3 separate regions of the Homo sapiens genome follow, and regions 1 and 2 are each linked to region 3. Evidence: fine-mapped expression QTL. A gene starts in region 3. Each other region holds a variant in brackets. All regions are shown on one strand. Distances are from middle to middle. Region 1 overlaps GNG12 (G protein subunit gamma 12). Region 2 overlaps GNG12-AS1 (GNG12, DIRAS3 and WLS antisense RNA 1). Region 3 holds the start of GNG12 (G protein subunit gamma 12).

The links. PIP is the estimated chance that this variant, and not a neighbour inherited with it, causes the effect. A credible set is the group of variants that fine-mapping cannot tell apart.
Region 1: its variant is the best candidate, but not a certain one, in a credible set for the expression of GNG12 in fibroblasts (GTEx, PIP 0.87).
Region 2: its variant is the best candidate, but not a certain one, in a credible set for the expression of GNG12 in lung (TOPMed, PIP 0.56).

The regions. Positions count from the first base shown.
Region 1 is chr1:67,790,942-67,793,701 of GRCh38, reverse strand. All of the region lies in intron 1 of GNG12 (G protein subunit gamma 12), which reads left to right. Among named protein-coding and RNA genes, the nearest start is that of GNG12-AS1, 40 kb to the left of the region's middle. RefSeq lists a silencer at 1-76. The variant G/A (reference allele first, on the strand shown) is at 1,491.
Region 2 is chr1:67,852,532-67,855,291 of GRCh38, reverse strand. The region is part of intron 1 of GNG12-AS1 (GNG12, DIRAS3 and WLS antisense RNA 1); the gene reads right to left. Among named protein-coding and RNA genes, the nearest start is that of GNG12, 20 kb to the right of the region's middle. The variant T/C (reference allele first, on the strand shown) is at 1,063.
Region 3 is chr1:67,832,009-67,834,768 of GRCh38, reverse strand. GNG12 (G protein subunit gamma 12) reads left to right here and starts at 1,302. Exons shown (of 4, transcript NM_018841.6): 1 at 1,302-1,425. GNG12-AS1 (GNG12, DIRAS3 and WLS antisense RNA 1) reads right to left here and starts at 2,481. Exons shown (of 10, transcript NR_040077.1): 1 at 2,333-2,481.

The DNA of each region.
Region 1 (2,760 bases), 41 kb after region 3:
GTGGGGTTTATGTTGGCTCTTCCCAAGTTCATTATTCAGAGAACAGCGGAAGAAAGCCACTTGCACAGCCCGAGAGGGATGCAGACTGCAGTGGAATTAAGTCCAGAGTTAAACTGCACAAGCACAACATTCTAGGAGGCCAGATTTGTAGTTTAAAAAAAAAAAAAATCAAAGTGCTTGACTTGAATGACCAAATACTTAGTATTTGATATCTACCGTTTTCTTCTTTTGGACAAACCACCTAACAAGTTAAATTCCCAAACAATTGAATAGGATTTCACATCACAAAGATCAAAATTTTTAAGCTTTAAAGAAATACATGGAAATCAAAGTTCACCAAGACTTGCAGATGATTTATTGCATTTTATTTATTAAAGAGGTAAAAGGGCAGAACTGATACCCATCTGTGTTTTCTATTTATGTTATCACTAATGTTAGAATTTGACCAGATCTTTGAACTAAGCTGAGTCTGACTTATTTCTCAAATGAGTCAGGATTAAGAATATCCTATTTTTACACAATGATTCCAAAGTCTTATATATAAAAGATCCAGAAAGATTATGCTTCAAGAAAAGGAGAAAAGACACAGGAGACAATTTCCAGTTGACTGAACTCTCTGAAGCTGAGGTTTGCTAAGAGTCCAAGGTGGAATTCACAGAGTGACATTGGTCTCTGTGGGGTGGTATTCACTGTCACACTGGGAAAATGTCAGAGGCTGGGAGAACGACTGTCCCCTGGGAGCTAACTCTGTCCACTGAGTGTGTCATGATAAATGGGTTTCATTCATGAAGGAAACACTGCTCTTCTGAAAAGCACCAATACTGGCCAGGCAGCCAGAAAACCCAAATATATTGGAGACTCCTGGCAGAAGGGGCCTGAACTCCCTTCTAGTCTCTTCCAAGGAGTTGTCTTAATATTCCACAGTGTTTTCTGTGGCTGCTAGGCCCAAACTGCATGGAACCATACAACAAAAGTTGTGTGGCAAACTACTTGGCATTGAAATCTGAGCCAGCCTTATTCAGATACAACTGGAGGGGAGAAAAACTGCCACTACCACAAATAAGGCAGACAATGTCTTTATTAGCTTAATTCTGCAAGCATTTTTTAAAGGTAATAAAGCCTTGAGGCTTTAGTTAGAGGCAAAAGACTACAGAACATGCCAGATGCTTAGTAAAAATTCAGAATGTAGCCATGAGGTTTTATATATCAAAACACCCCAATGGGCAGATACCAGAATCTAGGGGGTAAGGCATACGTAGTTTAAAAATCATGCCTTATCTTATGATTCACTTGGGGAAAGAGGAAATGTTTATTTTTATAATACGAACATCAGAAAAATCAAGTTCAATAAAATATTTCTGGCCAGTTGAGAATATGCATTCATTCAGTAACCAAAAAATGTGTATTTTTTCTTGAATGCCTAGCCTGTGTCAGGCATTGCCTCAGGCACTGGGAGTGCAACGGTAAACAAACAACATCCTTTTCTTACG[G/A]CATTGACATTCCAGTGAAGGAGAGGGAATAATTCAATAGATAGAAAATAGAGTGCCAGGAAGGGGGAAGGGGTACGTACCAAGAAGAAAAGCAAAGCAGAGTCTGGGAAGAGAGAGTAGGGCCTTTCTGAGGAGATAACGCTTGACCCAGAGACCTGAAAGAAGTGAGGCAGTGAGATGTGCAGGCCTGCAGTGTCTGTGAGAAGTTTAAGCAGAAGGAAGAACCTGTGTCAAGGCCCCAAGACAGAGCATTGCTTGGCAGATTTAAGGAGAAGAGGGGTTAGTGTGGCTGGATAGAGTGAGCCAAGGCCAGTTCTCATAGCTGCTGATGGGCCAAGGAGTGGACGTGAGTAAGTGTGTTAAGTATGCTGAGAATCTGTTGGAGAGTTTTGAGCTAGGGAATAATGACTGATGGAAACTAGATGGGGGGTTGAGGAGGGAAGCAAGTGTGAAGCCCAGATCAGCAGAGGGAACTCTTTAAGTCATCCAGGCGAGAGATGCTGCTAGTTTGCCCAGATGGGAGCAGAGGAGATGCCAACGCATGATTGGATTCTGGAGGTATTTTGAAGGTAGGGCTGACAGGATTTGCTGATTGATGGGATATGCAGTTGGTGAGAAAGGAGCCAAAAATGAATGAAGATTTTGACTTGAACAAGGGCATGAATGATGGAGTCCTACTGGTACCATTGATGTCCCCTGGGAGCCCCAAGAAGGGAGAGCAGTGTGGGAGATGATTGTGGCCAAGGCACAATTGTTTGTGATGCCTTACTAAGCATCCTAGGGGAGATGTTAAGAAATCAGTCAGACAAGTAAGTCTGACGTTCAAAGAGCAAGCTGAGACTGGAGATAGAGATTTGAGAGTCATCAGATTTGAGGAAGAGGAGAGAATTCAGCAAAGGAGACTGAAAATACATATCACAGTTTGCTAAGACACCTAAGGATGGGTATATCAGAATCTGATTAGGGAACATAAGGTTATCAGAAATGAGTGTGAATTTTAAAAGATTAAGAAAAACTGTATTTACATCATCATATCCACAATTGTTCCTGGAATTAGGAGATACATGTTCACAGGAGTAAAAGCTGGCTTTGACAAATAAGATAAATAGAACTGAATTTCAGAATTAACTCTTGTGTTACCCTTCCCCTGAGCCACTATGAACATTTCAGTTTTAGAAAATTAGATATAAATAAGTACATCCAGAGTGTGTTTTTCATTTATGAAAAATCTAGGGCGCTTCAAGTAAAGAAATAATCCTTGTGGGAAGGA
Region 2 (2,760 bases), 21 kb before region 3:
CCAGCCTACCCTTTCATGGTATTCAGGCACTCTTCCTCACATACATCATGCATTGCACCTCCATGCTTATTGCTGTTCCTCCCCCTGAAATACATTTTCCCTTATTTCTGGATCCCAGAGTAATTTCTTTTTTATTTGTTTGCTTGTTTTGAGACAGGGTCTTGCTCCGTCACCCAGGCTAGAATGCAGTGGTGCCATCATAGCTCACTGCAGCCTTTAACTTCTGGGCTCAAGTGATCCTCCCACCTCAGCCTCCAGAGTAGATAAGACTATAGGTGTGCATTATCATGCTGGCTAATTTAAAAAAATATATAGAGTTGGGGGTCTTGCTATGTTGCCTAGGCTGCCAAGAGGGATTTCTGTCCAGCACACACAAGAGCTGAACTGATTGGGAGGAATGGGCAGGAGGTAGGAAGGGGGGAACTTTCCAGAAAAAGATTGCAGCAGAAAACAGTTATAATGGTGAACACAGGGAGAATTGGAAGAATAATTTACCATGGAGAAGGAGAAGGGAAAGAGTCAGAGGGGAGACACCAAGCAACCATCTCCACCAAACTCAGCCTTGTGGCTCAGACCTGCATTTAAGAGTCGGCAGGGTTGCCATCGTCTAGAACCTAGTCCTCCCTCCTCTCCATTCTTCTCATATTTCCATCCATCCAAATCTTTCTTGCTGAGATCAACATAAATGCCCACGCTGTGGCTCCTCCACTCAGCCCTTCAGAGTCATGTACCCCTGCAGCTTTAGTGAGGGCCTCCACTCAGTGTTCATGAAACCCTACTCTGTATTTGAGAAAGATTTGTGGAGTTTTCCTACTTATTTTTTTCTCCAACTAGATAATAAACTCCTTGAAAAGCGAAGATGTACAGACTTTTGAAATATGTTTCAATTTTGACTTCAATACTGACTACCATATTTCATTGAATCTAAGCTAATATAAGATACATTATTTTATATACCACTAAAAACAGAAAAATACTTCCACTTGATTGTAAGACACTGCCAATTGTAAAAAGCATCCTGATTTCAGAGATCTGAGAATGTGAAAAGGGAGCATAGAAGAA[T/C]TGATGGAAGGTATGTGGTCTTAGACATGTGGTAAGCCTCTCTGAACTTCAGACTCGCCATTCATGAAATGAAAACCATACTTTTTCATTCATTCAGCAAATGTGTATTGAGTATTGTGTATTGAGTGCTTAGGTGTTGGGAACTTTTTAAGTTGAAAGGAATAGTAACTGGCTCTGGTTAACATAAGCGAAAGAGGATTTACTGGAAGGATACTGGGAGCTCAGAGAAACAGGGGCTGGAGCAGCAGGCTTGGTGATGGCAGGAAGCAGGGGAGCACCAAGGCCTGGGAAATGGAAACCATGGCAACAGCTCTCACCAGGAGGGCTCTCTGGTGAGGACAGAGATGCTGGGATTCAACTCATTCTCTTGTCCATGGATAACTCAGGAGCCTCTGATGGACGCAGCCTGCCCCCTGGTGTAGGGGTCTGGGGCAGCATCTGCTTGCTTTGGCTTCCACAGTAGGAGGCAAACACAGAATTTGCCATCCCATCAAGACCACACACAACAGAAGAGAGGAAATTCCCCAAAGTGATTTGGAACATTAGGAAGGTGAGAAAGGGAAATGGACAATATGTGGTCAAAACAGAAACCAAAAGAGATAAATTGCATAACATACTCCTAATATGTGCCAGCCACTATACCCCCAACAGTCATGGTCCCCGTTCTTATAGGGGTTACTGTTACTATCCAGTGAAAGAGGCAAATGAGAAACAAAAAGAGAGATAAAGAGAGAAAGAGAGAAGGAAGGGAAGGGAAGGGAAGGGAAGGAAGAAAAGAGAGAGGGAGGGAGGGAGGGAAAAATCCAGATACTGTCAATGAAGAAAAGACTGCTACGGGATAGAATAACTGGGGCTACTTGGCTAAATCCAGTTGCTCATTTTCAGTCCTCATTTTACATAAAACATCAACAGCTTTTGACACAGTTGATCACTCCCTCTCTGTGAAACACTCTCTTCATGCAGCTCTGGGGAAATCATGTCCTCATGGTTTCTCCTCCTTCGCCAGTTGTTCCTTCTCTTTGATGCATCCTGCCTTCATTTCCCCACCCTTAAGTCCTGGAGGGCCCCAGGGCTCAGGCCTCAGACTCCCACTTTATCTGTACTTGCTCCCTTGGTGAGTGCCTCCAATCTCAAGGTTTTAAATATCGGCATACTGAAGATGGCCAACTTTATTTATCCAGCCAGAACCCCTACACTGAACCCCAGACTCGTGTATCCAACTGAAGTCTCAACATCTCCATGGAGATGTCTAACTTAAAGTTCAAACTTATGTCTAAATCTCTTCCTCCACTTACCTCTGCCAAACCTGCCTGACCCATAGTCTTCTCATTCAGGAAACAGCAACTCCATCCTTCCAGAAACCTTGGTGTTATCTTTCGCTCCTGTCTTTCTCTCACCTCTCTCAGCTAATCCACTAGCAATCCCTGTTGGCTCGAGATATAATCACCTCTCACACCTCCACCACTGTCCCGCTGATCCAAGCCATCCTCATCTCTCCCGGACTAGTGTCATAGCCTCCTAATTGATCTCCCTGCTTCTACCCTTGCCCTCTATATTCTAACTTCAACACAATGCCTTGAGTGATGCTTAGATATCTAGATCAGATCATGTACCCCTCCTCAAAATCTCATGATGGCCCCGAAGACCTCAATCTTCCTCCTAACCTCTCCATCTTATTTCCTGGCTGTCTCATTCATT
Region 3 (2,760 bases):
ATTTGAACTGTTAGTACTTGTGAATCAGTCAAGCATTTCCTAATGCTGAACAGAACAGGAAATAAAGACCCCTCTGGCAGTCTGTGGCTTGCATCCCACAAACCACCGCCATCCGCAGCTTGCTAAGACCACACTCCTGGGGCAAGGCATGCATTCATACACCTACTCTACCTGTGACACCTCTTCTACATGTGCAAATGATTTCACTAAACCTGAAACTTGCTTAGGGGTCAGAAGGAAAGCAAGAGGGAATATAATGCCCTGACTGCAGTCCCTAGTTCCCAGATTCCCCAGGGCCCACTTGTCCTCAGTTGGTGAAACTCAATACACAGACATCCCTCACCAATGCTTTCAGACTCCATTTCAAGTGTGGACTCTGCCCACACTGGTTCTAAGTGACCTACTTTGGCCTCACCTCTTTTCTCTCCACCCTGTCAAACAAGAAAGCGGCTACCTAGGAATACTCTAGAAGTCCGCTGAGTGGTTTTCTGAACATCCAGCTTCTTTACTCTTTCTGGACTCCAAGAAGGCAAGCCCCTTGTCTGATTCATCTTTGTACCTCTCCCATCACCTTTAGCATCGCAGTTGGTACACAGCGGGTGCTTGGTAATGTCTGTCGAATGGCCAAAGGAATAGTACAAAATCTGTGGAAGCGGAAATGGCTCCTCCATTTACCCGACCTTGAACCCTTCCAGAAAAGACCAACCAAATCCCATTAATTCATTAGGCAGAACTCTGCCAGGTACTGGACATTCGGAAACAAATTTCAGGGGGTCGGGGCAGATGGACGGGAAGCTCATGGTGGGTGGATGTACTACAAATTCTATAATCCGCAGTTATACCTCCACTTTCTGGGAAACTTCTCTCCGTGGCCCCAGGGCCCTTTAAATGTTACTATGCGTGTTTTCCTCCATAGTTTCTGGAACAGAACCAAACTTTCGTGTAGGGGTTTGGCAGCGCTCATCCTCACAGCCCTGGGGACCGCTGGCACAGGGGCAAGCGAGGCGTTCGCACGCGAAGGAAACTTGCGAGGAGTCAGGGCGGCCCCGCGCGGGGGCGGGTCGTAGAGTGGGGGCCCTCAAGTCCTAGAACTTCAGGTCCTCCATGAGAATTAGAGGAAGGGGGATGGCCAAAGACGACCAGACGTCCACCGAGCTTCCACAGGCCAGGCCTCGCCCCTCCTCCTGCGGGGCCACAACGCGGGCTCCCCGGCCCGGGACAGCACAGCCAGGGCGTCCGGGCGGGAGGCAGGGCCCGGCGCGGAGGAAGGAGCCCGGGGCCGCCGCCGCCCCGCCCACCCCAGCGAGGCGGAGCCGGCGCCCGGAGGAGCAAGAGGAGGAGGAGGAGGAGAGGTCGGAGCCGTCTCCAGGAGCCCTTAGAGACCGAGTCCCGGCGGCGACGGCGGGGCAGCGCACCGGCAGGCGGGTGAGTACCAAGCGGCGGGCGCGGGTGGTGAGTCGGGTCCCCGCGGGGTCGGGGCGCGGCGCGGGGCGTCGGCCAGCGAGTTCGGGGGCCGCCTCCGAGTCCCGGGTGCTGGGAAGCGAGATGGAGGGAGGGAGCGGAGGAAGGAAGGAAGGAGGGAAGAGTGTCCTGCTGGAGGGCGGGGACTGGTCTGGGCGCTGGGCGCCGGAGACCGGGGGGAGGGGGAGGAAGGGGCCAAGGGACACCGAGACCCAGAGGCAGAAACGGCGCGCGCGCCCTCGACGGGCGGCCGCCCGAGGTTGCGGGAAGCCGCCCCCACGGCTGTGGCTGGGGCTAGGGCTGGGGGTGGAAGGAAAGGTCTCCCCTTGAGCTCGCTTGCCTCCTCGCCAGCCTGCGGCCGTGCGCCCCGCGCCGGGTTGGGAGGCCCCCAGTGTTCCCAGCCGTGGCTTGTGGTGGTGTCAGGCGTTGGAGGAGGGCTGGCATGTGGGGGCGACAGGGACGCCACGCCCCTCTGCCTACTTTCTACCTCCCGGGACCAGCCGGCGGGAGCGCAGCCTTGGAATCCGCTGGGCGCTGGGGGTCTAGCAGGGAAATAGCGGGTCGCAGAGGGGAGAGCCCATATGACGCACCCCGCGAGGGACCCCCGAGTGGGGACCCGAGGCTGCTTTTCTGCAGACTGTATTTGCAAGTGGTAAGGGGGAGGTTGAGGCTTAGTCTTGGGTGATTTTTTTTTTTTTAATTATTGCCCCGACAGTTATCCCGTGGGGCAGGGTGAATTCTGTTTTTCATTTTAATTAGGGCATATCAATTAAAGCTAACTTTAAAACGCTGTCACTTAGCACCTCCCGTCACTCACTCGTCCCTCGCTTTGTGTGTCCTGTAAACTTGGCTTAAATCATTCATAACTCACGATAAGGAAGCCGTGATTCTTGTTCACGTCGCCGCAGTGGAGTGAAACTTTGCCCAACTGGGACTGAGTGGAGGCATTGCTGCGGCCGGTCATCTGGTGGTCATCCTGCCGGGCGTGGTTGTATACAAACAAGTGGGTCGAGAAGGAAATCTCTGAACACCAGAGGTAGAAGGGAGGTTCCTGCGCCCACGTGTCAGGGCGCGTTTAATGGCTGCTCCCAGCGGAAACAAACGGGAATTTATTAGACCGTGTGGAGTTGGACAAACTTCACATGATTAGCTTCCTTCCCATCAGTTACTTCCTCTCCCCCCTGCTGTCTTTGCCGACACAGTTTATATTTCCTGGGGCGGTTGTAGCTTCGCCTGAATAGGCTGTGTATAATGAATCTTTTGGATGTCGTCAGAGGCAGGGTCTGCGTCTGTGCCTTC